Homo sapiens: one gene and its partner. The protein of the gene in region 1 purifies or fractionates together with the protein of each later gene. This does not show direct contact. Each region holds a gene or a part of one and is shown in the gene's direction. Other genes may lie near its edges.

Region 1 (3,656 bases):
AAAGAAAAGTAACTTACCCAGGGTTACACAGTTAAGTAATGGTAGAACTGGTATCCCATCCTAGAGAATGTGACTTTAAAACTGGTTCACTATGACTCTTAAAATGCATAATCCGCACTACTTTTTATAGAAGATAGTTAATTCTGTTATGTATAGTAGGAATAATTTTGTTTTAGGAGCTTCTATGTCATCTGTTTTGATGCTCTGTCATCAGACCGTCATTCCTGCTGATAATAGGCAATAAGACAGCTTAGATTATGTTCCATTTTAGGAATACTAGATACTTTAGAAAGCAAGTCTAGGAGGTATGGTGTTAGTAGCTTTTCCCCTTTCATCTACCCGTCTGTTGTATTTAACCTAATCAAGTTTCCCTCTTTAAAATTTCTGCCTGCCTGTATTTAGCATACATATAGAGTAATGAAATTTTAGGTTTAGAAGGGGCCTGGTTTAATCTCTTCTCTTTAAAGAAACCGTGATTTGTGCACATATCATTTTTCTGTGTCACCAGGCCCTCCAGAATGCAAACCAACATCTTCCTGGCCTAGTGCACTTTTTATTATACCATTATAACTTGTTAATTTATGAATTTCTTTTATTTGTACTTTAACCAAGTGTAAGGGAAGTATGCTGTGTGCAAAAGTGAATAGGGATGTATTTGAATATTTTTTATTTGTGCATATTTGCACGTATTTATTACACTTTTCTTTTTAAATTTTTATTCAGCTTTCTAAAACCAATTTTTCCAACAACAACGATTTCCGTGCTCTTCTGCAGTCTTTGTATGCTACTTTCAAGGAGTTCAAAATGCATGAGCAGATTGAAAATGAATACATTATTGGTTTGCTTCAACAACGCAGCCAGACCATTTATAATGTACATTCTGACAATAAACTCTCCGAGATGCTTAGCCTCTTTGAAAAGGGACTGAAGAATGTTAAGGTAAGTTGCAAAAATGGATATTCAACTGTCAAAACTTGTGCCATCTTCTGGTATATCATTGGCAAAACTTGTCACTGTTTTATAGTAAATGATGTAATGTTGAAAAAAATTATTTTGTCACTTGTTAAAGATGGCAAGGAAGACTATTTAAAAAGAACTACTGCAGTGGGGAGTTTGCAGTAGTGGAGAGAGATCAGTCCCGACGGTGAATACAGTAAGGACAAGTAGGGATTTATATCCAAGGGGCAAAGTGGGAAGAGTGGATGGAAAACTACTGAGGAAACATCAAGGCCAAGGGGATTCTTGCTAGACTAACTATAAAATTCTTGCTGAAGGCAAGAGGATAGTAACATATTGAAGGATCAGTAGTTTGATTAGATGTAGATGCAGATCAGATACTAAGGCTGAGAGATTTTTCACTAAACCAATTCAGCAGGATTTTTGCTGAAACTGGACTAAGCCGAACAAGAACAGAGTATAAGGTCAGGCCTAAGTTGAGAAGAGGGCCCAGAGGAGCCTGACTCAGGTTTGGTGAGAGTCTTCATCAGTTACCTCTTTATTACTGTTTAATAAAATTTTATAATGAATGCTACTCACCAAGTCTGAAAGCTGTTTTTGTAAGTCGAAGTTTTAATTATAAAATTTTTACATTCTGTTAACATTTGCTGAATTCTTAAAGGAAAGCTATCCAGTTAATGGTGACCAAAGGTATAATTATTACTTAGAATGAATAAACACTTTAATTTTATAAATTTTTACTTGTTTTAGAATTGAATACCAGCCAGGTGCAGTGTGCAGTGGCTCACATCTGTAGTCCCAGCACTCTGGGAGGCCGAGGCTAGTGGATCACTTGAGGTCAGGAGTTCTAGACCAGCCTGGCCAACATAGTGAAAACCTGTCTTTACTAAAAATATAAAAATTTAGCCAGACATAGTGGCAGGCGCCTGTAATCCCAGCTGAGGCAGGAGAGTTGCTTGAACCTGGGAGGCGGAGGTTGCAGTGAGCTAAAGATATTACTGGGTATAGTTTAGGATAATGATGTAGAGAGACTTTCTTCTTAATTACATTTACATATTATAGGATTTTGAAATTTGATCTTAGTTTATTTCCCTTCTGGCTTGGTGAAGCGTAAGCTTAAGTTACAACTCTGTTAAGCCACCATGTGCTCCTCACCTGGAGATTTATGTTCTGGAAAGGCTGTTCTACAGCTTAGGGAGGATGGATTAAAGATAAAGAAAAGACTAAAGGAGGAAGACCATTATTAAAAAATTATTCTAATAGTTTCTGGAAGAATACTTAGTAGCTACTTGGTGGGGAGGTGTGGGAGGTTTGGTTGGGGTAGGGTACTAGATAGTAATATTAATAGAAGGGAGATTTACTTTTTTATTGAATATTCTTTCGTATTCTTTGAATTTTGTATCATATTATGTATTGCCACATGAATACACCTTCGACAAATCTGAACTAAAGTCATGACTAGTAGAAATAAAGGGGAGGGGATCAGACTTGAGAATTATGTAGGAAATAAAATTGATAGAATGTAGTGATTATACTTAAAGGGAGGATGAAAGAAGAGAAAAGAAATAAAAATGAGGATTCAGCCTGACTTTCTAGAGTATATAGAAGAGGGTCAGGAAATAAAAAAGATTCATTCTTGACAGATTAGGTTTGAACTGCTTGTGTAATCCAGATGGGCATTTATGAATAGGAGGTGGTAAAGATGGATTTCATGGTCAGAAGAGTGACCCAGTATGAAAAAGCAAATTTGATAGTTATTATTAGCATATAAGTAGGAATGGAAGCCATGTGGATATGCTTAGGGAAAATGTGTAAAGTCGTAAGAGAACAGGACATTAGACTGAATATTGGGAAGCAGTTGAATAAATTAGTTCTGGAAAAAGAGACCAGAGAAGACTTAACAGAGATAAAATATTTTCATATTTTAAAAGTTTTCATAGGCTGGGCATGGTGGCTCATCCGTGTAATTCTAGCATTTTGGGAGGCTGAGGCGGGCAGATCACTTGAGGTCAGGAGTTCGAGACCAGCCTGGCCAATGTGGTGAAACCCCATCTCTACTAAAAATACCAAAAAAATTAGCTGGGAGTTGTGATGGGCACCTGTAGTCCCAGCTACTCAGGAGACTGAGGTGGGAGAATCGCATGAACCTGAGGTTGCAGTGAGCTAAGATTGCACCACTGCATTCCAGCCTGGGCAACAGAGCAAGGCTTGTCTTAAAAAAAAAAAAAAAAGTTTTCATTATTTTATAAATTTTCCACATGCTTTGAGAGGGCTGATATAGAAGTGGGGAAATGTGATTTTAGGTTATGAGGAAGAAGTTTATAGCTCCTTAGAATTGCCCAGAATTAGAATGAGTTACTTCAAGATATAGTGAGCACCTTGCCTTTAGAAGTGTTGATATTGATATATATGACCTTACATCAAATAATTTTTTCTTTTTTTTTTTTAAGACAGAGTCTTGCTCTGTCACCCATGCTGAGGTGCAGTGGTGCAATCTCGGCTCACCGCAACCTCCTTCTTCCAGGTTCAAGCAGTTCTCCGTGCCTCAGCCTCTCGAGTAGCTGGGATTACAGGTGCCCATCATTACACCTGGCTGATTTTTGTATTTTTAGTAGAGACAGGGTTTCGCCGCGTTGGGCTGGCTGGTCTTGAACTCCTGACCTCAGGTGATCCGCCTGCCTCTGCGTCCCAAAGTGGTG
Region 2 (3,656 bases), on another chromosome or scaffold:
GAGGAGCTGGTTAAGAGTGAAAATATGAAGCACAGAGAGAAGGCCTGTGAACAGTCCAGGAACTTCAGCTGCTGCCACCTTCTGTCCAAGAGTGTGACAACTGCTGCTTCCCCATGCTGCCTTTTGTTTCCAGACGATTTTCATTAAAAGCACCTTTTATCCCCAATTAATGTAACAACCGATGCGTCAGTGCAACAGTGCAAAAGGCTTTCATTCATAAAAATCAAACTTGAGGTCATGTGGGGAAAATCTATTAGCAAAGTATGTCAACATGTTGAATGTTCAAGGTTTTTTTTTTGTTGTTGTTGTTTTTCCTGAAGTGATATCTCCTCATGCTGGACAAATAAGGCTTTGGAAATTTAACACATGAATATAACCATCAAACATGTTTTTTATAAAACATGATATATTTGAAACAGTTGGAAAAATTAAAATATAAAGTATAATATGGTAAATAAGTCACTAACTATATTTTATTAACTTTAAACTTCTATATTAACTAATTATATTACTTATAATATTAACTCAGTATATTATATATGAATGAAAAAATTATATTTTATATTAGCTAAGTATATTAATGAGGTAATATATTCTTATTAAATGTATACTGTTTCTCAAGCTATGAGAATTACATAAAGCGTTATCTAATGGTCAACATTTTACTTCTTGGAGGTCAACAAAAATCAAAATGTGGAGGCTGTCTGAATTGCAGTTTTGAAACAATAATTCCATTTGATGTGGTTCCCTAACAATTGTCATTTAACAAATGCAATTTAATTTCAGCACTTTCTCAAAAGTAGTAATGCTAGTAAATTAGTATTGAATTTACAGACTGTAATGTGATTCACCTGCTGTAGATTTTCCATCACTTCTGACATCAGCAAACCTAGACAGTAGTTAATGATACTTGAAATTTTCTCATTAAAATAATATACCGTTTCTCTTTATTTTATGACTAAATTATAAATTTCTGTTCCATAGTTGTATGATGAATACTGTTTTTTTAAAAATTTCTTAGGCATGCTAACTTGAAATTGATTTTGAATTCATGGACATCTGTCATGAGTCCTAAATGCTATTCTCAGATATTAAACAAATTGATATTTCATTGGGTGAAAAACTCACTCAAACTTCCTGTGGTTTACTTTTCTGGCAAAATCTCTTACTGATACTTGGTATAATACCTTTCTCATATAGTGAAAATTTAAATAAGTTTAACGTCTTTGAAATGCTGAAGTAAAAGGAACCATAAAAATGCAAAATATATTTTCATAGACAGCACAGCTAGTTTGCCCTAAAATTTATTTTTTAAAAATTTTACTTTAAGTTCCAGGATACACGTGCAAAATGTGCAGGTTTGTTATCTAGGTTTACATGTGCCATGGTGATTTGCTGCACCTATTGACCCATCCACTAAGTTCCCTTCCCTTGCCCCCACCCCGCAACAGTCCCTGGTGTGTGTTGTTCCCCTCCCTGTGTCCATGTGTTCTCATTGTTCAACTCCCACTTAGGAATGAGAACATGTGGTGTTTGGTGTTCTGTTCCTGTGTTAGTTTGCTGAGGATGATGGCTTCCAGCTTCATCCACGTCCCTGCAAAGGACATGATATTATTCCTTCTTATGGCTGCATAGTATTCCATGGTGTATATGTAGCACATTTTCTTTATCCAGTCTATCATTGGTGGGCATTTGGGTTGGTTCCATAACTTTGCCATTGTAAATAGTGCTGCAGTAAACATACATGTGGATGTGGCTTTACGGTAGAAAGACTTATATTCCTTTGTGTATATACCCAATAATGGGATTGCTGGGTCTAATGGTATTTCTGGTTCTAGATCTGTAAGGAATTGCCATACTGTCTTCCACAATAGCTGAACTAATTTACATTCCCACCAACAGTGTAAAAGCGTACCTGTTTCTCCACAGCCTTGCTAGCACCAATTGCATCTATAGCATCTATCTATTCTTGACTTTTTAATAATTGCCATTCTGACTGGCCTGAGATGGTATCTCATTGTGGTTTTGATTTGCATTTGTCTAATGATGAGTGATGTTGAGCTTTTTTTCATGTTTGTTGGCCATGTAAACATCTTCTTTTGAGAAGTGTCTGTTCATATCCTTTCTCCACTTTTGGATGGGGTTGTTTGTTTTTGTAAATTTAAGTTCCTTGTAAATTCTGAATATTAGACTTTTGTCAGATGAGTCGATTGTAAAAATTTTCTCCCATTCCGTAGATTGCCTGTTCACTCTGATGATTCTTTTGCTGTGCAGAAGCTCTTTAGTTTGGTTAGATACCATTTGTCAATTTTGGCTTTTGTTGCAATTGCTTTTGGTGTTTTCATCATGAAGTCTTTGCCCATGCCTATTTCCTGAATGGTATTGCCTAGGTTTTCTTCTAGGGTTTTTATGGTTTTGGGTTTTACATTTAAGTCTTTAATACATCTTGAGTTAGTTTTTGCATAAGGTGTAAGGAAGGGGTCCAGTTTTAGTTTTCTGCCTATGACTAGCCAGTTTTCCAGCACTATTTATTTAATAGGAGATTATTTCCCCATTGCTTGTTTTTGTCAGATTTGTCAAAGATCAGATGGTTGTAGATGTGTGGTGTTATTTCTGAGGTCTCTCTTCTGTTCCGTTGGTCTGTCTGTTTTGGGACCAGTACCATGCTGTTTTGGTTACTGTAGCCTTGTAGTTTAGTTTGAAGTCAGGTAGCATGATGCCTCTAGCTTTGTTCTTTTTGCTTAGGATTGTCTTGGCTATACGGGGTCTTCTTTAATTCCATATGAAATTTAAAGTAGTTTCTTTTTCTAATTCTGTGAAGAATGTCAATGGTAGTTTGATGGAAGTAGCATTTATTCTATAAATTACTCTGGGCAGTATGGCCATTTTCACAATGCTGATTCTTCCTATCCATGAGGTTGGAATGTTTTTCCATTTTTTTGTGTCCTCTCTTAATTCCTTGAGCAGTGGTTTGTAGTTCTCCTTGAAGAGGTCCTTCACATCCTTGTTAGCTGTATTCCTAGGTATTTTATTATCTTTGTAGCTATTGTGAATGGGAGTTCATTCATGATTTGGCTCTCTGCTTGTCTGTTATTGATGTAAAGGAATGCTTGTGATTTTTGCACATTGATTTTGTATCCTGAGACTTTGCTGAAGTTGCTTATCAGTTTAGGGAGTTTCTGGGCTGACATGATGGGGTTTTCTTGATATACAATCATGTTGTCTGCAAACAGAGAAAATTTGACTTCCTATCTTCCTATTTGAATATGCTTTATTTCTTTATCTTACCTGATTGCCCTGTCCAGAATTTCTAATACTATATTGAACAGGAGTGGTGAGAGAGGGCAGTTTTGTTATGTATTGGTTTCCAAAGGGAATGCTTCTTGCTTTTGCCCATTCAATATGATATTGGTTGTGGGTTTGTCATGAATAACTCTTGTTATTTTGAGGTATGTTCCATCAATACTTAGTTTATTGAGAGTTTTTAATGTGAAGCGATGTTGAATTTTATCAAAGGCCTTTTCTGCATCTATTGAGATAATCATGTGGTTTTGTCTTTGGTTCTGTTTATGTGATGGATTACTTTTCTTGATTTGCCTATGTTGAACCAGCTTTGCATCCCAGGGATGAAGCTGACTTGGTCATGGAGGGTAAGT

The links.
Region 2: the proteins of FBXL5 (region 1) and CTNNA2 purify together in Homo sapiens (affinity purification with mass spectrometry; one large-scale study listed by BioGRID and IntAct). This does not show direct contact.

Annotation. Positions count from the first base shown.
Region 1 is NC_000004.12:15,641,776-15,645,431, reverse strand, and holds part of FBXL5 (F-box/LRR-repeat protein 5), read left to right. Parts: intron 1-723; coding exon 724-939; intron 940-3,656.
Region 2 is NC_000002.12:79,876,535-79,880,190, forward strand, and holds part of CTNNA2 (catenin alpha-2), read left to right. Parts: intron 1-3,656. UniProt on the Homo sapiens protein: May function as a linker between cadherin adhesion receptors and the cytoskeleton to regulate cell-cell adhesion and differentiation in the nervous system. Required for proper regulation of cortical neuronal migration and neurite growth.